Linked DNA regions of Homo sapiens: all the other regions are linked to region 1. Evidence: fine-mapped expression QTL. A gene starts in region 1. Each other region holds a variant in brackets. All regions are shown on one strand. Distances are between the middles of the regions. Region 1 holds the start of GLYR1 (glyoxylate reductase 1 homolog). Region 2 overlaps PPL (periplakin). Region 3 holds the start of ROGDI (rogdi atypical leucine zipper).

Region 1 (8,174 bases):
GATATCTAAGGCCTGTTTCTGAAGTCCATGTGTCATATTAATACGGTATTTAGAGATTCTTTAATCAGTATTGCACTGTTTTGTAAAGTTTCATACTTTAATGTTGCAAAGTTAAAGCTCATGTTTATTATCCTTCTTTATAAATAATACTTTGCCATTCCAGCCTATGTATTATTTTGGCAGGTTTCAAAAAAACTCACTGTATTTTGGTTGTAAATCAATCACAAATGTGAGTTAATTCAGGAAAATTAGCATATATCGTATATATCCACATACATGTAGACGTATTTGTATATATCCAATATTCATTTGTCGAATTATGATCACAAAATCAACTTATAACATCACATAAGGGAACAAAATATCTACAAATGAAGAGTTAAAATAATTCTAATCAGGCGGCAAAACGATTAGCAGTGTAACAGGCTGGCGCTGCAAAAGACCATCTCCCAACACGTACTAAGATGTTAAAGGAGATTTCCCTAAAAGAAATCTCCAAGGCCCTCAGGATATTTGTGATGCGCTGGGTTGTGGAAATAAATCCCAGCTGAAGGCTTACAGATTCCCCCACTGATAGAACCGGAACAGTCTCACTATAAGAAGGGAATCAGCAAGTTAACCAATGGGATGCAGGAAGGTCATCCTTGAATTGGCAACCAGGTCCTACTCCCCCTGTCCAGGCAGTAAACACATAACCTTATCTCAGTCCAAGTCTGAGAGACTGCAGCTTCAATCCTAGATGGCAAAACTGCTCCTTTCAGTTGCTTAAGTGACTCTCCAGGCCCAAGAAGGTAAAAAATAGGACTACAGGATAAAGTGAGTCAAATCTGTACTCTATTACCACTTAGATTTGGGGTTGTTTTATAATCATTATAATGTTCTGCTGTTACTAAGCCATTTGAAACATTTAAGAGAATCCAATATATTTAACAATGGTACGTTAGACTTACAATCATAATTCAAAATGCTTAAGAAAATATAATTAAGTTCAAACATGTTTGAATGCTTAAAAAAAACTTACATTTATCTATTAGACTTACGAGAGTTGCCTAAGTCCTTGGAAAGATTTTAGCTTTTTTTGTGGTTTTTTTTTTTTTTTTTGTGAGACAGTTGCCTCACTCCTGTTGCCCAGGCTGGAGTGCAGTGGCACCATGAGAGCTCACTGCAGCCTCAACTTCCCGGACCCAGCACTTTGGGAGGCTAAGGCAGGATGATCGCTGGAGCCTAGGAGTTTAAGACCAGCCTGGACAACATGATGAGACTTCATCTGCACAAAAAAATTTTTTTTAAATTAGCCAGGTATGGTGGCACACCCCTGTAGTCTTGGCTACTAAGGAGGCTGAGGTGGGAGGATGGCTTTAGACTGGGAAGGTCCAGGCTGCAGTGAGCCGTGATCCTGCCACTGCACTCCAGCCTGGGCGACAAGAGTGAAACTCCGTCTCAAACAAAAAAAAGAAAAAAACAAAGATCCCCCTTTAAAAACCTCAGTTGGTGTTACTGAGAAAATACTAGCCTTCCTTGTCCCTTGGTTATCCTCAGCAATTTTTAATTTTTTCTTACTATATATATATATATCTCCTTCTAAACATTGTATTTTCAAACTGGTTATTGATGAAACAGAAAAACTAAATTGTGCATTCCAACTTATAATGAGTACCCTTCCTGAATTCTTATTTTAATGGGTTTTTTGGTTTTTGTTTTTGTTTTCAAAATAGGCAGACCTATCATCCACGGAAATGAGAATTCTGTCTTCCCTTTTCCAAAAATTGCATTTCTTATTTTTGTTTCCTGTCTTACTGCACTGGCTAGAACTTTCAGGTTTTAGGCAATATATTCTTATTATCTAATAGTGGTAGAAATGTACCATGTTTCTGATGTTAAGGGGAATGCCTCTAGGTTTTGGTGCAATGTTCATTTGAGATTTTTTTTTCTTTTTTCTTTTTGGCGGGGGGACGAGTCTCGCTCGCTCTGTCGCCTAGCTGGAGTGCAGTGACATAATCTCGGCTCACGGCAACCTCCGCTTCCCGGGTTAAGCGATTCTCCTGCCTCAGCCTCCCAAGTAGCTGGGACTACAGGCATGCGCCACCACGCCCGGCTAATTTTGTATTTTTAGTAGAGTACTGGGTTTGACCGTGTTGGCCAGGCTGGTCTCGAACTCCTGATCTCAGGTGGTCCACCCGCCTCGGCATCCCAAAATGCTGGGATTACAGGCTTATACCACCCTGCCCGGCCAAGATTCATGTTTTTATTTAAGTTATTAAAATCTCATTCAATTCCTCACAAATTCAGAATTTTTAAACAGGAACTTATGTTAAATTTTTATCAAATTATTCCCTGGAATCTTAAATACGCTTTAAAGATCACTTTGTCTTAAAAATACACACGCAGTAAATGACAGTCCGTGCAGCTAATTCTTGGTACTTCAGGGAAACTGATCTCCCAAGAAAAATCAGGCTGCGGGACGACCCAGTACGCTAAACACCGACTTGCAACCGAAATCTCTAACCACCACAATGCCTTGGGGAAATGCGTGTCGACTCGCCACCTTTGCCAGCTGGCAGTGACTCAACAAGAGCCCGACACCAAGTCTAAGTCAATCCTTAACACTGTGGAGTCTGTGATCGGGACTGGGATCTTTTGCAAAATTGTGATTCTACCTGGTCTGCTGAAGTTTGGGCCGACGCTGCGCTCAACTGCAGTTAACACTTCCCAGTTCATGGTTCAGTTTTAAAGTGTCCAAACTACGCCCGGCATCTGTCTTCCTGTTGTCACAACTTTTTCAAAAGTGCAAAACTAGGGCAAGGCTAACGAGAGAGCCCGGACCCGACAACGACACGCACCTTTGTCCCCAGCGCCGACGCGGGCCGCAGACGTCCCCCCGCGGCGGTCCTCATGCCGGTCCCCGGGCGGCGGCGCAGCTAGCGGTCGGCTGCTAAGCCGTGGCTCCCAGCGGGCGGGCGGCCCGCGCCTCGGCCCATGGCCGGGTCCCCGAGCCCAGGGGAGCCTGGTGTGCCGCGCCGCGCGCCGGCCCAGGAGGAAGCGAAGAAATGCCAACTCGACGTCCGCGCAGCCACTCCGGGGACACCAGGGGGTCGGGGGAGCAGCCTCCGGTCGCCCCAGGAGAACTTGCGGCGCGGGACCCCGCGCTCAGACGGCGCCTCCGAAAGCGGCCGTCGGGAGGAGCGCTCCAAAGAACACGGGCGGCGGGAGCGGACGGGCGCGGACACCGGGGCCTCCCGGCCTGCGGCCAAGCAGAGTTGCCGGGCGCGGGAGCCCAGACCCGGCGGAGGCTGAGTTCCAGGCCGCGCCGAGCTCCGTCAGGGTAGCTCACTGGCGCTGCGACGGGGCCGACCAGCGCCTCGGGCTCGGGAATGGCCCCGGGGCCCGCGCCGGACCAACGGGCGTAACGGAAGCGCCGAGAGGGGAGGGGCGCGGAGTCCAAGACCCGGGGGCGGGGCGAGCCGCGAGGCCGGCTCCCTCTCGCGCTCAGCCGGTCGCACCGTCGCCGCCGCCGCCGCCTCAGACCGCGGGCGCTTCGTTGTCACGAGCCGAAGGGAGGGGGAAGGAGCCGGGAGTCTCTGCGCTCCGGCGCGCGGAGACCGCGGCGCTCGCGTCACGTGCCCCTCGGTCGACCAATGATCCCCGGCGGGCGCGGTGACGTCAGAGTAGCGGCGTGGCCAGTGACAGCCGGCCCCCGTCACGTGGTCGGGCCCACTCCAATGGGCGGCGCCGGGGCGACTTGCTGTTCCCGGCGGCCCGTGCGTCGGCGGTGGTTGGGTGGTAAGATGGCGGCTGTGAGTCTGCGGCTCGGCGACTTGGTGTGGTGAGTCCGAGCGGCCGGGCCAACCGAGACGCGCCGGGGAGCTACCCGCCTGGGCGCGGGGTTCGCTGCCGGCCCTGGAGCTGCCTTTTTATGCGCTCCAGGTCGCGGAGAGAGGGGAAGAGAAGGTGCCGGCGCTTGCGAGCGGCGCCAGGCGGAAGGGGCAGTCCAGTCCCGGGGGACCGAGGCCGAGGGTGGCCACGTCGGGCACCGGCTTTGATCCCCGAGGCCGGCCGGGTGGGGTCTGCACTCGGGGCCCAGATACTGGCGGCCCCCGTGAAGGGAGCCGCCGGTGCCGCGAGGCTTCCCCGGACGACCGGTCCCCGGGGTCTTGTTGGGGCTTCCCAGAAAGCAGAAGCGCCGGGGACCGGACCTGCGAGATCTGGCCGGTGCCATTCGGTCAAAGCCCAGGTTGCGATGCAGCCGACCTGTGCGGCCGGCTCAGCCGGGGTTGTCTAAACCGGACTGCTGGCGTTGCCCCGCGAAGAAACGGCGGGGGGACTTCTCCTTTACAACCGATGGCTTGGCAGTGACCAGTGCACGCTTGGGTGCCTCCCGCGGTCTGCTTCTGTGTCCCAGACAACCGCCCGAACCAAGACTTTGTCGCCGCCTCCCTCGAGCTGCGTAGCTTGTTTCTCCACCCAGAGGAAGGCTTCCATTAGCATTTGTCAAAGCCAGGCAGGTCTCCTGTTGAATTAAACCAGACTTAGGGAGGGAAAGTCTGTGTTTACAGAGGAAGCTGTCCTCCCACCCCCGTCATTAAGAAGCTCTAGACAAGTGACTTTTGACAGTTGTGTTGTTCTGTATTCCTTGTCAACAGAAGAATGGATATGCGTTGTGCACATAAGTATACAATTTTGCATTTTACTTCTGAGGGTGTTGGGCCCAGCTATGAAAGCTTTTGTTTCGGCATTTGAGGATGCCAGCAGAGATTTAGGAAAATAAATTGCGTATTGAGTGGGTTGAAGGAGATGGACTGGCTTTTGCAGGGCAAGTGTTGACTCTTTGTGTTTTCTCTAGGGGGAAACTCGGCCGATATCCTCCTTGGCCAGGAAAGGTGAGTGTCTTGCTACTAAAGGAAGAGATCTGAAGTTGGGTTTGAAGAGGTGGAGAATGTAAGATGCATTCCTCTCAGTTTCTAGTATTGAGTTAAATTGGGCTCATTCAGATGGCACTTAGAATTTTTTTTCCCCTAGTATCGGTTATTTTTTAAAAGGCAATGCAGTATACACCAGATCATTAAATCTTCTCTAAACCCTTATTTCTGGATTTAGAGGAGGTTTATGAAGTTTCTTTTTTAACCCCGGAAATAATTCTAGTCTGAATTTAGCTTTATGCTTAAATGTAACAAAAGGAGAAGAAAATATAAATTATCCAGGAAGAAAGTCTAAATGTAGGTTAGTGAAAAGCCAAAGTATTTTTGTCCCAACTAAGTTTAAATCTTCTTTCCATGTTACCATATGTGCTACTCCAGTGCCTCTTTGCAGAAGTTGGCATTCCAGATTTTGCATGAGGTGATCCATCATTGCTTTCCAAATGTTGTGTTTTTATATTCTTGCTTGGAGCCCGGGAGGTGTCTTTAGATGGTCTCTTTGCAATATGGTGTTTTCTGTGCCTCGGTTGTCCTTTGTTTTCACTATGTCCTGTGTCAACCCTTCCTGCACAGGAAGTATTTCAAAGAGTGTCGTCTGCATTTTTTCAGTAATAATGGGGTCACATTGGAGCAGGGGTGGGGTGGTGGGGGGCAGGGGATGCTGTTGATCTTAGTTTTAACTGCTTGTAAAACAGGGCCACTGCAGTAAAAGGGATATTGTGTCTACTGAGCACTGTGCTACATGTTAAATATTGGGAACTTCTAGAATATCTACACATTTCCATACACCTCAATAGAAAAATGGGAGATTTAGACAAGTACTAGGCCTTGGGTTCTGTTTTGTATATAAATAAATTTATTTGTAAGTAAGTCCTTTTAATTTACTTTTTTCTTAGCAACGTAGAACTGTAGAGCAATGTGGAGCCACTAGAAAGTGGGCTGCTGTGTTGCCAGCCAACCTTTTTCCCCCCTTTTATCCTCCAGATTGTTAATCCACCAAAGGACTTGAAGAAACCTCGCGGAAAGAAATGCTTCTTTGTGAAATTTTTTGGAACAGAAGATCAGTGAGTAGTACTCACCAGGAGTCTCCCTTCGCCTTTCTTTCTGTGTTACCTGGAGTCTGAGCTGCTTTGAAAATATTCTAAGGATCCTTAGTTCAGTCTTCTTATAATGTGTAATACTGGCATCTCATTCTGCCTTCATACCTAAATAAAGGTGCAATTTCTTGCAGAAATTGCCCTAGACAACTGTCCTAGGTCTATAACTAAGTCAGGCAAGAACTAGGTTCATTTACCTTCTAACTATAACAATCACATTGAAACAGTTTCTCACATGTTTCTTTACCCAACTCCAAAGGCAGTTCCTTTTTGTTTGTTTTTGAGACAGAGACTTAGTCTGTCACCCAGCCTGGAGTGCAGAGGCAGTCTCAGTTCACCGCAACCTCTGCCTCACTGACTCAAGCGGTTCTCTCACCTCAGCCTCCCGAGTAGCTGGGACCACAGGTGTGCACCACCATGCCCAGCTAATTTTTTGTAGAGGGGGTTTTACCATGTTGCCCAGGATGTTCTTGAACTCCTGGACTCAAGCAATCCACCTGCCTTGGCCTCCCAAAGTGCTGGATTATAGGCGTGAGCCACTGCGCCCAGCTGGCAATTATTTTTATAAAAGCCATGTTCAGTTCTCTTTTAATGCCATATATCATTATGGTTCATGCTTGGGGTATACAGTGGAAACTTTTATTTATGTTAATAAAAGTAATTGTTCAATCATGTTCTCATGTGTAAAACTAAGTGATTTGCTTTGACATTGTTATAGTAAGTCTTTTTACCAGATCTGTCCTAAGTTGGGGAAACCAGGACCATTAATCTGAGACTCTGACCATATAACATGTTACAGTGACGGGAAGAACGTGAAGAACCTGTATTAACTTGAGTTGCTAGTGATTTGTTTAGCTTTTTATCACTATGTCAAGTGGCTTACCTGGGTCTAGCTAGATGGTTTGATTTTTTTTTTTTTTTTTTTTTGAGATGGAGTTTCACTCTGTCACCCAGGCTGGAGTGCAGTGGCATGATCTCAGCTCACTGCAACCTCCACCTCTCGGGTACAAGTGATTCTGGTGCCTGAGCCTCCCGAGTAGCTGGGACTACAGGCGCACACCACCACACCCGGCTAATTGTTTTATATTTTTTAGTAGAGACGGGGTTTCACCATGTTGGCCAGGCTGGTCTCAAACTCCTGACCTCAAGTCATCTGCCCCTCCCCCCCCCAACCCCCTCAGCCTCCCAAAGTGCTGGGATTACAGGCAAGAGCCACCATGCCCAGCCGGTTTGATTTCTTTAAGTAGTTGTATTTCTATTTATTATTCTTATAGGAAAATACAGCCTTAGATTTGAAAAAAATGTCTGTGGCTTCTCTGGTAAATCTAATTCTGACGGTTAAAGTATTTCTACTTAGAAAGCGATATATTATAAACAGTATTCTTCACTCATCCAGGAGTTTATATGTCAGATGCTCTTCCTGGTTTCATGTTTACAGATAGACCCAGCCCCATTTCTCTATCACAAGCCAGCTTAGCAGCCTGTGGTGGCAGTATTTCAAGGAGATCGCTGGCCTGGAGCTGTGGAGCCAGAGCTTCTGGAAGAGGGAATGTTCTTAGAACTCCATGGATTTAAAAAGAAGATTTGGCCGGGCATGGTGCCTCAGGCCTGCAATCCCAGTACTTTGGGAGGCCAAGGTGGGTGGATCACTGGAGGTCATGAGTTCGAGACCATCCTGGCCAACATGGCAAAACCCCGTCTCTACAAAAAATACAAAAATTAGCCAGGAGTGTTGGCGTCTACCTGTAATCCCAGCTACTTGGGAGGCTGAGGCTCGAGAATTGCCTGAACCCAGGAGGCAGAGATTGTTCGAGACCCTGCACTCCAGCATGGGTGACAGACTGAGACTATGTCTCAGAAAAGAAAAAGAAAAACAGGAAAGATTGTCCTCATGCATAACATCAGTGTTATGTGTCCACTTTCTGAATTGCTTGACACTGAGGGAATTTATAAGAAAGCAAGTATTATAGTTCCCACCTTCCAGATGCTCAGTCAAGTGACAAGTTGTAAACATTTCAGATAAGATGATGTGCACAATGATGGTCGGGCATGGTGGCTCATGCCTGTAACCCCAGCACTTTGGGAGGCCGGGGCAGGCAGATTGCTTAACGCCAGGAATTTGAGAACAGCCTGGCCAACATGGTGAAACCCTGTCTCTACTAAA
Region 2 (8,174 bases), 77 kb before region 1:
CTCCCACAGCCCTGCGGCCTTGCAGGCTCAGCCAGCAGCTCTGGTGTGTTTTATCTTACAAAGCATGACAAAAACCCTCTGCCTAGGAAAGGATGGGCGGGGCGGCCAGGACACCCTGCCAGCCCTCTCAAAGTGTCTGGGTAAGAACTGCTGAGATGGCCGGGCACAGTGGCCCATGCCTGTAATCCCAACACTCTGGGAGGCCTAAGGTCAGGTGTTGGAGACCAGCCTGGCCAACATGGTGAAACCCTGTCCCTACTAAAAATACAAAATATATTTTGTGTTTGAGCCCAAGAGTTGAAGGCTGCAGTGAGTGAAGTGCAGCAATGCACTTCAGCCTGAATAACAGAGCAAGACTCTGTCTCAAAAAATGAAAAAGGAGGCTGGTGCTCTTTCTCCAGTGGTCCTGAACCCAGAGTGACATCCTGATGCCTTGGGGCACCAAAGTTGGCTTGAGCCCTGTTTATCCCCCGAGTCTAGGAATTCAAAGCTGCAGTGAGCTATGAATCCTCCCACCTCAGCCTCCTGAGCAGCCAGGACTAGAGGCATGCACAACCATGCCCAGCTAATTTTATTTATTTATTTATTTTTGGTAGAAATAGGGTCTTGCTGTGTTGCCCTGTCTTCAAGACCTGCCTTGGTGTTACCTGAAGCAGCTTGAACTTCTGTATGTTTGTAAAAGGAGCCCAAAAGCACTCACCTGACACAGAACCCTAGGCCCCATCAGAGGCCTGGAGGCAGGGCGGCCTTCCCTGGGCAGAAACAGATTAGGCCTTAAAAACAGACCTGGAATTACTACACCAGCAACCTTCTCATCTTAGGATATATTTCCACAGGATTAATAGCTGGGTGTGAGGACATTTACTGTCTAATTAGCACAGGAGTTTCTAGTAGTGAGAGAATCAGTCAATTGACCAATCAATCTGGTATTCATTGGGCACATTCTGTGTACTGCTTTCTCACAGGGCTTCCTTCCTATAGAGATCTAGGATTCTTCGGCATCTTGCTTCTTTTAAACCTTGCTGTGGTTCAGTTCCTTGTTCTCATCCCTGGCTGTACATTAGAATCACCTGAGGAGTTTTGAACAGCATGTCAGAGCCCTTTCCAAGACCAGTTAAGTCAAAATCTCCATGGACATGGGTCCAGACATCATTCTTTTGATGTGCAGCTGTTGGGAACCACATAGTTACATGGATTGCCTCGCTCCCTCTTGTCTTTGAGATATATGGACAGTGCTTTCTCTCTTCAGTATCAGTTGCCTGGTATGTCACTCTCCATTCTTTATTCTCAACCTTCCTGTATCATTTAGTTTCAAGTGTGTGTGTCTTATAAAATGGCATATAGCTTGGGGAAGGTGTGTGTTTTGTAATCTCACCGGAGAGTCTTTTATCTTTTAATAGGCAAAATTAACTCATTTACATTTATTGTAATGACTAATGTGTTTGAACCTACTCCACCATAGTGCCCTATTTATCATGCTTTCCCTTTGTTTCCATTTTGCTCTTTTCCTGGTTTTTACTGGATTGAGTATATTTTCATCATTAAAGTTAGATTATAAGGCCTAAATGGAACACAGTGGATGAAAATACCCTGGTGTAAGTGATCTAAAATCTTTGTTTTTGGTTTTTTTTTGTTTTTTTTTTTTTTGAGACAGAGTCTTGCTCTGTTGCCCAGGCTGGAGTGCAGTGGCACAATCTCAGCTCACTGCAAGTTCTGCCTCCCAGGTTCACGCCATTCTCCCGCCTCAGCCTCCCAAGTAGCTGGGACTACAGACGCCTGCCACCACGCCCGGCTATTTTTGTTTTTGTATTTATCGTAGAGATGGGGTTTCACCATGTTAGCCAGGATGGTCTCAATCTCCTGACCTCGTGATCTGCCCGCCTCGGCCTCCCAAAGTGCTGGGATTACAGGCATGAGTCACCGCGCCAAGCCAAATCTTTGTAATTATACCCATTGGGGTGTTTTTCCTTAACCTACCTACTAGCTTACAAGCTTTTGAATAGTTGGGATTTACTCATCTTTTGGGAGAGGGCCTTCTGTTGTCCTTAATTCCAGGCCTTACATAAGCTTGGGGCTCCATAAATAGGTGTGAAATTGAGCAGGTATTTTATAGCATGTGGACAATTCATATCTCTGGGGGCTTGTTAATGGTGAAGGGCCTGTTGCCAGGGCCTGTAAGGGGCAGAGAGATGACAAAGAGTTGGTGGGGTGGGGTCGAAAATTTATTTGGCAATTACTGAATATCTAGAAAGTGCCCAGTTGGGGCTGCAGCAGTTACAAGCATAGACCTCTTACTAACCTATTGACCCTGAGCAAGTGGTCTTCCTGAGGCTCAGTTTCCTCATCTGCAATGGAGCTATGATAGCACGTACCTCAACTAGTTGTTATAAGGATCAGAGATGAAACCTGCTTCCGGTGCTAGGGTAGGGTGTGGGCCAGGAAGGTGCTCACTCAATGGCAGTTGCTTCCGCCTGAAAGGTCTGTTTGGAGGGACAGGCTGGGAGTCCCTTGTGGGGACAACTTAGGAGAATGACTCAGTCTCCGTTTACCATCACTAATCCTTACCCAACCAACCACTGGGATTAATTGTACTGATGAAAATGACAACAAACTGTAAATCACTCTGCTTCCCTGGGTGGTGAATGCCTGGTCCCATCATCCTGTCTCTCCGATGTCTCTTGTCCCTTTGTCTGTAAGGGGTGGGTGTGGATTGATACTGATGTCCCCTTTGTACTGAGAAGGTGGCTTTTTGAAGCCCGTCTTCATGGGTTCGAATCTTGGCACCACCACTTCCCAGCTGTGTAAACTCGGACCAGTTTCTTAACTTCTGTGAGCCTCAGTTATCTTCACCTAGAACACAGAGACATAAGAGTTACCGAATTGCATTAAAACATCTGCTCAGTTCAACACCTATTTATTGAGCCCAGCCCTACGCAAGGTGTGGAATTAAGGTTATAGAAGGGCCCCCAAAAAGGTGAGTAAGTTCTTTTTGTCCAAAAATTTAATAGCCTAATAGGTAGGATTAAGAGCCCCAGTAACACTAAGGGTGGCTACTTCCTAGGGCTATGAGACGTCAATGGGTGATGCACAAAAGGACTGAGCGGTCGCTGGGCACCCAGTAGGTGCCCTCAGTGTTGTTACTATTCATCAGTTATTTCCTGAGTGTCCACGGTGGTTGCCTTTGTGTCAGAGCCAGGGCAGATGTTTCAGGAGCCAGGCAGTGTTTAAAGAAGGTAGGGGCAGAGGGCTACTCGGCACCGGAGGTGCACCTCCCCCAAGCTGGCCCTCCAGGCAGGCAGGACGCCAGAAGAGGATGACCGTGGTGGCAGGAGGCCCAGCCCCTTCTCTGGGCTCTGGGACAGGTGAGGCTGGTTCCAGGGAGGGGTGTACCCTCCTGTGCGTTCCAGACATTCCAGCAGCAATGCAACCCCAATACACACCCACTGAGACAGAATTAACCCCCAGAGGAAGGAACTGCAGATGTGATCAAAGGCCAGTGGCCCTGGCCAGGCAGGGAGTGCTGAGCCTGCAGGGACCTGTGTCCACACATGGGAGGAGAGTGCAGGCTGGGCTGTGAGCCAGCAGGGGACACAGCAGTTCTGGGCGACAGGGACAGCTGGGGTGGAGGTGATGGCAGGAACGTGGCCCCTCCGATGTTGCTAAAGTATGATCTGTTACCGGGGTGGCTGCTCTCGCAGCCTGGAGAAGGGGATGGCTGTGAGCAGGCCAGGTGCCTCCAGCACAGCCCCATGGCCTATGGACAGGGTTGCAGGGGCTCTGGGGACCTGGGGAAGGGTGTCTTGCTGCGGTCTTCGTGCCAGGGTCCTCCACACCCAGGCACCAGGCTCCAGTGGGCACAGTGGGGAGCCCCAGGTTGTTTTGGAGTCAGGCAGCCAGGGAGGGACCCACAGAGGAGACCCTGTCCTGGGGCAGACATCTAATCAGTGAGTGTGGGCAGGAGGAGTCACGGGGTTCAAAGAGAATGAGCATTTATTAGGTGTCCCTGGGTACCAGGCACCGAGTGAGACTGGAAGATGCTCTGAGCGCCCATCAGCTTTCCTACAGCAGAACTGAGAGACTGTGGTCACTGCGGGCTTAGAGCAAAGCAGGTCCGGGTGCCCCAGAATCACCTAGAATCTCGCAGTCCTATTCAGTAATTACTGGCCCCGTGACATGGGCTGTGCACGTATGTCTGTGTGCCAGGGTTTGAAGACTTAGTGT[G/T]AAAAAGAGAATGTAAAATATCCGTTAATAATGTTCTGTTGACCACCTGTCAAATTGATCATATTTTGGATATATTAGGTTAAATAAAATAGAAAAAAATTCGCTCATTTCTTCTTACTCTTTTCACGTGGCTACTAGAAAAATGTAAATTCTGTGTGGCTCAGGTTCAGTTTCTGTTGAACAGTGCTGGCCTTGCATACAAAGCAACTTAATACCTGAACTCCTGTGGGAATGTTTTCCAGCTGTTGAGTGTCTTTCTGCTTGTTCCGTGACAAGCAGGCATGATAACCCCATTTATGTTGAAAGAAATTAAGGCTGAGACAGGTGGAGTAATACATGCTGTTATTCCAAAAGCCAGCATAGTTCATTCAGTCTGATGGGCGCTACGGACATGGCAGTGAACAACAGACAAAGAGCCCTGCCCTGGCAAGGCCCCCACCAGTGACACGGAGGAAGAGGATGAAACCCAGTTATCCTAATCATGGTGCGGCCACACCCAAAGCGCTTTCATTTATAAGGGTTATCTCCTTGAATTATCTCAACCCTCTGCAGTGGGATCAATTCCTATCCCTGTCTCAGAGATGAGGAAACTGAGGCACAGAGAGACTAAGGAATCTGCCCGAGCCCACACCTGGGTTAGAGCCACAACACAGGCTACGTTCCCTGCCCTGGCCAGGCTGCCTCAGTTTCCTCCCCTGCAGGCAGGGTAGAAAGAATGGGCCAGTTGGTGCCATGTGACTTGAACAGGTACAGCTGAAGACATCAAGGGTGGCTCTTGAAGCCACCCCCACCCAGGGAGCCCCCTTCCAGGTCGCTGATGGCTGGAAGGTTGCCATTCATGGTGTCCTTGGAGGGTCCACGTCTCTCCTGGGGGCAGGAGGCCGGGAAGCATATCTCCCCAACTCTTAGGTCTTTGTATGATGCAACCAGATCATCCCATCATCCAAACTAAAACTTACCTGTGCTCCCAAATGCTCTCAGAAAAGAGAGTGGGTGGCTGTTGCATTGGGCCAGGTAAGAAGTGGTGACTTTGATCAAGGTGAGGCCAGAGGGGCAGATGGAGGAGGATGCGCAGGAGACGCGTTCCCAGGTAGAACCAGTGGAGGGAGAAGCAGGGACAGGTCTCAGGGATCTGTTGGCATAACCGGGTAGACAGGTCCTCCCCACCCTCCCCTTCTGCAGTTTCCCTTATGCGGACGGAAGAACGTTCTCAGAGCAGTGGGAACACCCTGTACCCTTCAAATCCCCAAACCTACTGACTCTGATCCTTAGCCCAAACCCAAGACAGCTGAAGCGGGCTGTGCGTTTGTCCCCCAGCTAGGCCCAGGGAGTGGGCATCTGGGACGCAGGATCTCCTGTCCTCCCGACACCTCATTACCCATATATGGGCACCAGCCTCTCCTCGCAGATGTTGGAGGAGATGGTTCCAAATTCTGAGGTTAGTTGTGAATTCCACGTGCCCCGGCAAGGCAACATTCACAGGGCAGAAGCAAAGCACGTCTGGGCTTGCACCAGGATCAGCGTGAACAGTGTGGACGGCCGGGGGTCTGCTTTCATCTCCCAGGTGCTGGAGGATTCTAACTTCAGGCCTTGGCTTCTGGCTTTTTGTTTGTTTCTAGGGTTTTTTTGTTTTGTTTTGTTTTGAGATGGAGTCTTGCTCTGTCACCCAGGCTGGAGTGCAGTGGCACAGTCTCGGCTCACTACAACCTCCGCCTCCCAGGCTCAAGCGATTCTCCTGTCTCAGTCTCTCCAGTAGCTAGGATTATAGGTGCCCACCACCATTCCCGGCTAATTTTTGTATTTTTAGTAGAGACAGGGTTTCACTATGTTGGCCAGGCTGGTCTGGAACTCCTGACCTCAGGTGATCTGCCCACCTCAGCCTCCCAAAGTGCTGGGATTACAGGCATGAGCCACCACGCCCAGCTGGCTTCTGGCTTTTATCAGCTCCTTAAAAGGAGCCTAAATCCCTGGATGGTGGACCCAGGTCAAGGCAGAGCCGGGCTCCTCAGAGGCAGCACCCCATATCTGTTCTCTCAGTCACCCCCACCACAGCCCTGTGGCATGCATACTGTGATGACTCTCATTTTACAGCTGGGGAAACTGAGGCTCAGAGAGGCTAAGTAATTTACAGTTTATTAAGAGCAGAGGCAGGATTTGACCCCGGGCTGTCTGGCTTTGGTCTGGGTGCTTAACCACTGGGCCACACTGCCCTTCCAGCTGAAAGAAAGTGCCAGTGGCACCCGCACAAAATTAAAGCAGGAAGAGAGACCCAGGAGGTGGAGAGCGAGGGTCCCCCGAGACACCTGTGTTATCTTTCTCTGCCCACGTGGAGCATCGGTGGTGTGTCAAGGCCAGGGTGCTACCTCTGTCCCAGCTCCTCTCACGGGCATCCCTGCTGGCCCTCTGAGGACTGTGTGCTGTCCTGGCGGCCAGGACAGCACACAGTCCTAGGTTCGAGTCCCAGCTCTCCACTTTGCAGCTGGGCTTACTGAGCCACTGGGTCCTCAGCCTCGAGTTGCCACCTCTAATGCAGGCTGGGGCCAGGCACAGTGGTACACACCTGTAATCCCAGCATTTTGGGAGGCCGAGGCGGGCAGATCACTTGAGGCCAGGAGTTCGAGACCAGCCTGGCCAACACGGTGAAACCCCATCTCTACTAAAAATACAAACATTAGCCGGGCGTGGTGGTGCATGTCTGTAATTCCAGCTGCTCGGGAGGCTGAGGCACGAGAATTGCTTGAACCCAGGAGGCAGAGGTTGCAGTGAGCCAAGATCATGCCACTGCACTCCAGCCTGGGTGACAGAGTGAGACTCAGTCTCAATCAATCAATAAAGCAGGTCGGGCTGTGTCTACTGAGGCTCTGACTCCTGGCGACAGAGCCAGGAGACCTGATGCCATCTGAGGCCCCCAGGCCCCCTCCCTAGTGGTTCCTCTGCTCTGAGTATGTCCTGGGACACAAGAAGATGGCTGTTCAGGCTCAAGCCTGCGGGCTCAGACCCAGGAAGCCCTTGTCTGGTCCCTGGGAGTACCCTCAAACACAGCCCTGGAACTCCGAGGAGGAACCGGGCAGCCTCCTGACCTGCTGGTTCCATTTTTCCTTGCTTGCATCAAGAGCCTCATATGCAGACCAGGCCAAGAAAATGGGGCTCTGTGAGACTGCTCAGGATTGTCCCAGACTCTGGCATCCCCAGCCCAGAAGGAAAAAGCTAGGGAAAAACAGCCTCAGTCGACTCGAGGTGACTCGTAGAGGCTTGCAAAACCCATCTAGCAGGCAGCCCCTGACCCACAGCGTCAACAAGGCTGAGGGGGCTGTTTCTGCTGCCAACCAAGTTCTGGGTCCTCATTCAGGCCCACTGGTGAAACAGCCAGCAAGGCCCGAATTGTATAAACAATGTAAATGAGCCAGGCACAGTGGGCTCATGCCTGTAATCCCTGTACTTTAGGAGGCCAAGTCAGGAGCATCCCTTGAGCTCAGGAGTTTAAGACCAGCCTGGGCAACAGAGAGAGACTCCATGTCTACAAAAAAATTAAAAAATTAGTTGAGGCCGAGTATGGTGGTTGACACCTGTAATTCCAGCACTTTGGGAGGCCGAAGCAGGCAGATCACCTGATCAGGAGTTCAAGACCACCCCGGCTAACATGGCGAAACCCTGTCTCTACTAAAAATACAAAAATTAGCCAGGCATGGTGGCGTGCGCCTGTAATCCCAGCTACTCGGGAGGCTGAGGCAGTAGAATCACTTGAATCCAGAGACGGAGGTTGCAGTGAGCCAAGATTTTGCCACTGCACTGCAGCCTGGACAACAGAGCAAGACTGTTTCAAAATTTTAAAAAGAGTATAAATGATCTCAAGTCTGTTTCAGGGACGCTGCTCTGAACCTCCAGTTCAGTCCTTGAACCACAAAGGTGTCTTTGAAATTTGACCGAGGTGTCCTTTCTTTCTTTCTTTCTTT
Region 3 (8,174 bases), 42 kb after region 1:
GACTTCCTAGGCTCAAGCAATCCTCCCACCTCAGCCTCCCGAGTAGCTGGGACTATAGGCGTGCACAACTGTATCCAACTTCACATACACTTTCGAAAAGCTTTTTAGGGTAGAAGTTCCGCTTTCTTAGCTCATCTTCATAGAATTTGAATCTAAAAAAAAAACAACTGAAAAACATTTGTCTTTACCATATTATTATAATAAAAATGACACTTTGTGAAACAGCAGCTGTATTTTTAAAGTACTATCAGCTGATACACTTTTATTTTATGTTATTTTATTTTATTTTATTTTATTTTAGAGACCGAGTTTCACCCTTGTTGCCCAAGCTGGAGTGCAATGGTGTAATCTCGGCTCACTGCAACCTCTGCCTCCTGGGTTCAAGTGATTCTCCTGCCTCAGCCTCCACAGTAGCTGGGATTACAGGTGCCTGCCAGTACTCCTGGCTAACTTTTTGTATTTTTAGTAGAGATACGGTTTCACCATGTTGGCCAGGTTGGTCTCAAACTCCTGACCTCAGGTGATCCACCCACCTCAGCCTACCTAAGTGCTGGGATTACAGGCGTGAGCCATGGCACCCAGCCAGTACTGTTCTTTTGACACCTGGCTTTTCATAGTATAATTCTCTGTTCCTGAATTGTATTTTTTTTTTTTTTTTTTTTTGAGACAGAGTCTCACTCTGTTGCCCAGGCTGGAGTGCAGTGACATGATCTCAGTTCACTGCAGCCCCCACCTCTTGGGTTAAAGTGATTCTCCTGCCTCAGCCTCCCAAGTAGCTGGAACCGCAGGCATGCACCGCCACACTTGGCTAATTTTTGTATTTGTAGTAGAGACAGGGTTTTACCATTTTGACCAGGCTGGACTCGAACTCCTGGCCTCAAGTAATCCGCCTGCCTTGGCCTCCCAAAGTGCTGGGATTACAGGCATGAGCCACCGCATGCAGCCTTGTTCCTAAATTCTGTCTTCTGTCTCTTGTCTGTTTCAACATTTCAGAGTACTTATTTCATGACTCTTTCAGATTACATTACTATTTCAAGTCCCCCCTGTTCATTCTACCAGTGGATTCTCTCTGGATAGTAGAATTCGTTGTGTATTTTATAAGTCTTTTTTGATGAAAGCTCATTTCTGACTATAGTTATTTCCCAAGGGTTTCATGTGGCTTGGGCTGGGAAAGCTTCTCTTTGAAGTGACTTCCAAGTTGCCTCCACCCTGACTACAGGATTCATTGGCTTGGAAGCAGAGTTTTTAGGTTAATTTCTCAATGCAGCTCGCTGCTTTCAGGTCGTTTGGATGGTATGAGCTTAGACTCTATACTGTTAGGAGTTCAGAGGTTAGGTTCTGAAGGTTAACTGGTGCATTGACCTTTAGTAGTTGTATTGATATGTGGTTCAATTTGGGGCTGCCATTTTATCATTTGATTTCTGTTCGTTGTCTTTGTCTTTTGTTTGTTCCTCCTTTCTTACTTTCTTTTTAGAATTCCAGTTTCAGCTGGGCACGGTGGCTGACACCTATAATCTCAACACTTTGGGAGGCTGAGGCGGGCAGATCACCTGAGGTCAGGAGTTCGAGATCAGCCTGGCCAATATAGTGAAGCCCAGTCTCTACTAAAAATACCAAAAATTAGCCGGGCATAGTGGCGGGCACTATTAATGCCAGCTACTCCGGAGGCTGGGACAGGAGAATCACTTGAACCCAGGAGGCGGAGGTTGCAGTGAGCCGAGATCGTGCCATTGCACTCCAGCCTGGGCGACAGACCAAGACTCCGTCTCAAAAAAAAAAAAAAAAAAAAAAGGGGCCAGGCGCAGTGGCTCACGCCTGTAATCCCAGCACTTTGGGAGGCCGAGGCGGGTGGATCACGAGGTCAGGAGATCAAGACCATCCTGGCTAACAGGGTGAAACCCTGTCTCTACTAAAAATACAAAAAATTAGCCAGGCGTGGTGGCGGGCGCCTGTAGTCCCAGCTACTCGGGAGGCTGAAGCAGGAGAATGGCGTGAACCCGGGAGGCAGAGCAGAGCTGGCAGTGAGCCGAGATCACACCACTGCACTCCAGTCTGGGCGACAGAGCAAGACTCCATCTCAAAAAAAAAAAAAAGAAAAAAGAATTCCAGTTTCATTTATCTATTTTCTTTTTTACTTTGCCTCTGCATTCTTTTTTTAGTGGTTACTCTACAGATTGCGGTATAAATCCTTAAGATAGAGTTAATCTTGCCAGGCACAGTGGCTTATACTTGTGATCCTTGTAATCCTAGCACTTTGGGAGGTCGAGGCAGGGTCGAGGCAGGGTCGAGGCTTAAGCAAGCCCAGGAGTTTGAGACCAGCCTGGGCAACATAGCAAGACCCCCATCTGTACAAAAAAAAATAAAAAACTAGCTGGGCGTGGTGGCGAGCACCCTATTCCTAGCTACTTGGGAGGCTGAGGCAGGTGAGGCAGGAGGATTGCTTGAGCCCAGGAGTTCGAGGCTGCAATGAGCCATGATCCTACCACTGCACTCCAGCCTGGGCAACAGAGCAAGACCCTGTCTCAAGAAAAAAAAAAAAGACAGTTAATCTTGTACCATTTCCCATTAAATGTAAAAACTTTGCAACCACACAGAAGCATTTCTTTCCCCCTTCCTCTCCCTCATCCTTTAAGGCAGGGTTTCTCAACCTCGGCACTGCTGCCATTCTGTGTGGGGGGGCTATCCAAGCACTGCAGGATGTTGGGTAGCCCACCCACCAGACGCCAGTGACATAGCTCCTCCTCAGGTGACAGAAAATGTCTCCAGATATTACCAGATGTCCCCTGGGGGCAGAAGCACCACAGGTGTGAGAACTCTCACTCTGAGGTATAGGTGTCCTGGGTGTTTCATCTGCCCTTGTTTTATTTTTTATTCATTTATTTATTTATTTGAGACAGTTTTGCTCTTTTTTTGTTTTTGAGACAGAGTCTCGCTCTGTCACCCAGACTGGAGTGCAGTGGTGTGATCTCAGCTCACTGCAACCTCCGCCTCCCAGGTTCAAGCTATTCTCCTGCCTCAACCTCCTGAGTAGCTGGGATTACAGGCACCTGCCACCATGCCCGGCTAATTTTTTGTATTTTTTTTTTTTAAAGAAGGGGTTTCACGACGGTCACCAGGCTGGTCTTGATCTCCTGACCTCGTGATTCACCCACCTTGGCCTCCTAAAGTGCTGGGATTACAGGCATGAGCCACTGCGCCTGGCCCTAATTTTTGTATTTTTAGTAGAGATGAGGTTTCACCTTTTTGGCCTGGCTGGTCTCGAACTCCTGACTTCAGGTGATCCACCCACCTCGGCCTTACAGGCATGAGCCGCAGTGCCCGGCCAATGCTGAATGTTTTATATCCCATAGTGTATTTCATTCTCACAAGATCCCCCGGGTACTGTTCCTTCTCCCAGAGCAAGAAGCACAGTGGCTGAGGTCCAGAGAAACGGAGGTGCTTCATGCAAGGTCAACACAGGATTCCTAACCGGACAGCCTGGGCTCCAGCACTGCCTGCTGGCCACATCCACCACTGCCTCCAGGAATCAGGTCTAGGTCTTGAAGGCAGCTCTGGGGCCAGAGACTGAGCCATCTCTTTTTTTTCCAGGTGTACAAAAGAGCCAAGGCGCTGGACCAGTCTGACAACGATATGTCCGCCGTGTACCGAGCCTACATACACTAAGCTGTCGACACCCCGCCCTCACCCCTCCAATCCCCCCTCTGACCCCCTCTTCCTCACATGGGGTCGGGGGCCTGGGAGTTCATTCTGGACCAGCCCACCTATCTCCATTTCCTTTTATACAGACTTTGAGACTTGCCATCAGCACAGCACACAGCAGCACCCTTCCCCTGAGGCCGGTGGGGAGGGGACAAGTGTCAGCAGGATTGGCGTGTGGGAAAGCTCTTGAGCTGGGCACTGGCCCCCCGGACGAGGTGGCTGTGTGT[T/A]CACACACACACACACACACACACACACACACACACACAGGCTCTCGCCCCAGGATAGAAGCTGCCCAGAAACTGCTGCCTGGCTTTTTTTCTTCCGAGCTTGTCTTATCTCAAACCCCTTCCAGTCAAGGAACTAGAATCAGCAACGAGAGTTGGAAGCCTTCCCACAGCTTCCCCCAGAGCGAAGAGGCTGTAGTCATGTCCCCATCCCCCACTGGATTCCCTACAAGGAGAGGCCTTGGGCCCAGATGAGCCAGTACAGACTCCAGACAGAGGGGCCCTTGGGGCCCTCCAACCTCAGGTGATGAGCTGAGAAAGATGTTCACGTCTAAGCGTCCAGTGTGCACCCAGCGCTCCATAGACGCCTTTGTGAACTGAAAAGAGACTGGCAGAGTCCCGAGAAGATGGGGCCCTGGCTTTCCAGGGAGTGCAGCAAGCAGCCGGCCTGCAGGTGAGCATGGAGGCCCGGCCCTCACCGCCTCGAAGCCATGCCCCAGATGCCACTGCCACAGCGGGCGCTCGCTCCTCCCTAGGCTGTTTTAGTATTTGGATTTGCATTCCATCCCTTGGGAGGGAGTCCTCAGGGCCACTAGTGATGAGCCAAGAGGAGTGGGGGTTGGGGGCGCTCCTTTCTGTTTCCGTTAGGCCACAGACTCTTCACCTGGCTCTGAAGAGCCACTCTTACCTCGGTCCCCTCCCAGTGGTCCCACCTTCTCCACCCTGCCCTGCCAAGTCCCCTGCATGCCCACCGCTCTCCATCCTCCCTCCTCTCCCTCTTCCTCCCGTGGAGACAGTATTTCTTTCTGTCTGTCCCTTTGGCCCAGACCCAGCCTGACCAACGATGAGCATTTCTTAGGCTCAGCTCTTGATACGGAAACGAGTGTCTTCACTCCAGCCAGCATCATGGTCTTCGGTGCTTCCCGGGCCCGGGGTCTGTCGGGAGGGAAGAGAACTGGGCCTGACCTACCTGAACTGACTGGCCCTCCGAGGTGGGTCTGGGACATCCTAGAGGCCCTACATTTGTCCTTGGATAGGGGACCGGGGGGGGCTTGGAATGTTGCAAAAAAAAAAGTTACCCAAGGGATGTCAGTTTTTTATCCCTCTGCATGGGTTGGATTTTCCAAAATCATAATTTGCAGAAGGAAGGCCAGCATTTACGATGCAATATGTAATTATATATAGGGTGGCCACACTAGGGCGGGGTCCTTCCCCCCTCACAGCTTTGGCCCCTTTCAGAGATTAGAAACTGGGTTAGAGGATTGCAGAAGACGAGTGGGGGGAGGGCAGGGAAGATGCCTGTCGGGTTTTTAGCACAGTTCATTTCACTGGGATTTTGAAGCATTTCTGTCTGAACACAAAGCCTGTTCTAGTCCTGGCGGAACACACTGGGGGTGGGGGCGGGGGAAGATGCGGTAATGAAACCGGTTAGTCAATTTTGTCTTAATATTGTTGACAATTCTGTAAAGTTCCTTTTTATGAATATTTCTGTTTAAGCTATTTCACCTTTCTTTTGAAATCCTTCCCTTTTAAGGAGAAAATGTGACACTTGTGAAAAAGCTTGTAAGAAAGCCCCTCCCTTTTTTCTTTAAACCTTTAAATGACAAATCTAGGTAATTAAGGTTGTGAATTTTTATTTTTGCTTTGTTTTTAATGAACATTTGTCTTTCAGAATAGGATTGTGTGATAATGTTTAAATGGCAAAAACAAAACATGATTTTGTGCAATTAACAAAGCTACTGCAAGAAAAATAAAACACTTCTTGGTAACACAGCTGTGCCGCAGGAGTCCTGCTTCCCTCGTCCTCGGCGAGATGGGTGGGAGGAGAAGGCAGCGGCGGGGCCGGGGTGGGTTTTCGGGACCTCCGCGTCCGGGGTGAGACGGACTTGGGAGTGGCGGCGAGGTCCGCGGCAGGGTTGGAACCACGACCAATGGAGCCAAGCGGGCCAATAGGGAGGAGGAGCGGGGACAGACTGTCCTGCCGGCCAATGAGTGAGCGCGAGTGGAGCAGAGCGCCCTATCATATCCTGGGGGCGCCCCGGGAGCTCCGCCCCCAAGCGGGCGCCCCAGGCTGGTGCCGGCCGCGTCCCTGGCCAGCCGGAGCAAGCCTGACTCGTGCAGCCGCCGGCCGCGTCCCTGGCCAGGCGGAGCGAGCCTCACTCCCGCAGCCGCCAGTCTGGTTCCAGGGCTCCCGCAGGTTTCGGGGGCCGAGGCGGACCGACAGGCGCCAGCCAATCGCGAGCACGGAGCCGGCCTGGGGGCGGGGTGGTACCCGCTCCGCCAATCGGGTGGGGGCGGAGCCAGACGCCGGGGGCGGACGGGAGGACCGGAGGACCGAGGACAGAAAGATTGGTGGACAGGAGCAGCGGCCGGTGGGGAGGGCGCTCGGCGGCGGCCTGCGGCCATGGCCACCGTGATGGCAGCGACGGCGGCGGAGCGGGCGGTGCTGGTAAGGCGCGCGGGCCAGCGGGCGGGCCGGCGGGGCGGCGGGGCCGGGCGCGACCGCCGGGTCTGTCCCGCAGGAGGAGGAGTTCCGCTGGCTGCTGCACGACGAGGTGCACGCTGTGTTGAAGCAGCTGCAGGACATCCTCAAGGTAACGACCCGCGCCCTGCCCCGCCGGGCGTGGCGGCCCTCCCTCCTCATTTCCCTGGCTCCACCTGGGGCCGCGCGGCTGCGTCCTGAGCGCCTACAGTGTGCGGCTGCCGCGGCTTTCAGGCAGGGCCCCGCCTCCGCGAACTCGAGCCGACCTCATTATATAAGTACCTGTGTGCGGGCAGGGGCGGGTCCCGACGAGGGTGCTAGCAAGGGCCTGAGTCCCGCCCGGCCTCGGGTCGGGGAAGGCCGCCTTGGGAGCAGCGGCATCCAATCTGGGAGCCGAAGAATTCTGCCTCTGCCTGGCAGTGTGACTTCAGCCAAGTCACTGAACCTCCCTGGGCCTCCCTTTTCTCATTGGCAAAAGGGAGATAACAGTACCCGCTTCGCGAGGCTGGGGTGTAGATAAATGAGCCAGGCAGCTCACAGAAGTAACCGGCGTAGTGCTTGCTGTGGCCCAGGACCGCGGGTTACCATAACTACTGCCTTGTTCCCTGACTCTGCCCCTTGCCCCTTTCCCCCTCAACCAAGCTGGGAGGCTGCCCCTGTCTGTTTTGTATTCCCCGAGGCGGGCACACAGGAGGTGTTCAGGGAATGTGGTATAAGCAGAGATCGGGCTCACGGTTAGGTGCCCTGGGGGCTTGGGCAGGGTCTTCCCACCCCAGCTGAACCCAGGTGAGGCCAGGCCACGTTGTTCCTTCCCCCCGCTGACTTGGAGGGAGGGGGGCTTCTGGAAGGAGCACTGGGCCGGGCCTGAGTGGGCGCTACCAGCTCCCCTCCTTCCCTCTGTTCCACAGGAGGCCTCTCTGCGCTTCACTCTGCCGGGCTCCGGCACTGAGGGGCCCGCCAAGCAAGAGAACTTCATCCTAGGCAGCTGTGGGTGAGCCTGGGCTAGGCGGAAACCGGGGAAATGGGTACCTTGGGGGGTAGGAGGCATGGCCATAGCCCTGTCCTGCAGACCAGCTGGTTGTGCGATGGGACAGGAGGGGCAGCCCGCCGGGAGGGAGGGCTGGGTGGTGGGGGGGTGACCACAGGCACCGCTCTGACGCCACATGTTACAGCACAGACCAGGTGAAGGGTGTGCTGACTCTGCAGGGGGATGCCCTCAGCCAGGCGGTGAGTCCCCCGGCCCTGTCCCCTCCCATCCTGCCAATGGGGAAGAGCATGGGAGCTCCCACTTTCTCTCTGTACAAGCCCTGCGACTCTGGGCGGGACCCTTGATCTCTCTGGCCTCAGTTTTCTCCTTTGGAAAATGACAGCAACCCTCACACCTTCTCCCGGGATCGGTGTGCAGATTCAGTAAGAGGTGCAGGAGAGGGGTTCTTTGCACACGGCCTGGCCTGGCGTCCGGACCAGTGAAACATGGGCATTGGTGGATTAGGCTGGCCACACATCACAGTTGAATCAGCCAATGCCTGAACTCCAGTCTGCACCCGACTCTGTGCCAGGCACCAAGGCGTGGGGGGAGGCCCCCCTCCTGGGCTCCATCTGTTGCCCTTTGTAGACACTAGATGCACCCCGTTCGCACAGAGCCTCACAGAGGCTGCCTTTCCTCTTCCCCTTCCCCTTTCTTCACCTCTTTCCATTTCACTTCTTTGTGGCTCTTCTTGGGCCTGGTTTCCTGTTTCCTGACCTCCCTGTTCAACCCCCAAACGGCC

Evidence for each region.
Region 2: its variant is fine-mapped to the expression of GLYR1 in whole blood (TOPMed, PIP above 0.99). The same link has a PIP of 0.9 or more in blood mononuclear cells.
Region 3: its variant is fine-mapped to the expression of GLYR1 in whole blood (INTERVAL, PIP above 0.99).

Annotation. Positions count from the first base shown.
Region 1 is chr16:4,842,877-4,851,050 of GRCh38, reverse strand. GLYR1 (glyoxylate reductase 1 homolog) reads left to right here and starts at 3,763. Exons shown (of 16, transcript NM_032569.4): 1 at 3,763-3,823; 2 at 4,841-4,877; 3 at 5,898-5,977. The coding sequence starts at 3,786. UBN1 (ubinuclein 1) reads right to left here and starts at 3,570. Exons shown (of 18, transcript NM_001079514.3): 1 at 2,841-3,570. RefSeq lists silencers at 2,890-2,979, 2,990-3,709 and enhancers at 2,762-3,604, 3,900-3,959, 4,260-4,319.
Region 2 is chr16:4,920,352-4,928,525 of GRCh38, reverse strand. All of the region lies in intron 1 of PPL (periplakin), which reads left to right. LOC105371064 (a long non-coding RNA gene) reads right to left here. Exons shown (of 4, transcript XR_933028.3): 3 at 5,181-5,353; 4 at 2,598-2,850. Among named protein-coding and RNA genes, the nearest start is that of PPL, 13 kb to the left of the region's middle. RefSeq lists an enhancer at 1-203. The variant G/T (reference allele first, on the strand shown) is at 4,222.
Region 3 is chr16:4,800,725-4,808,898 of GRCh38, reverse strand. It overlaps ROGDI (rogdi atypical leucine zipper), which reads left to right and starts at 6,266. Exons shown (of 11, transcript NM_024589.3): 1 at 6,266-6,372; 2 at 6,446-6,517; 3 at 7,314-7,396; 4 at 7,578-7,632. The coding sequence starts at 6,328. It overlaps GLYR1 (glyoxylate reductase 1 homolog), which reads left to right. Exons shown (of 16, transcript NM_032569.4): 16 at 3,589-5,696. The coding sequence ends at 3,663. RefSeq lists enhancers at 3,917-4,211, 6,258-6,758 and silencers at 5,759-5,970, 5,863-6,652, 6,693-6,752. The variant T/A (reference allele first, on the strand shown) is at 3,927.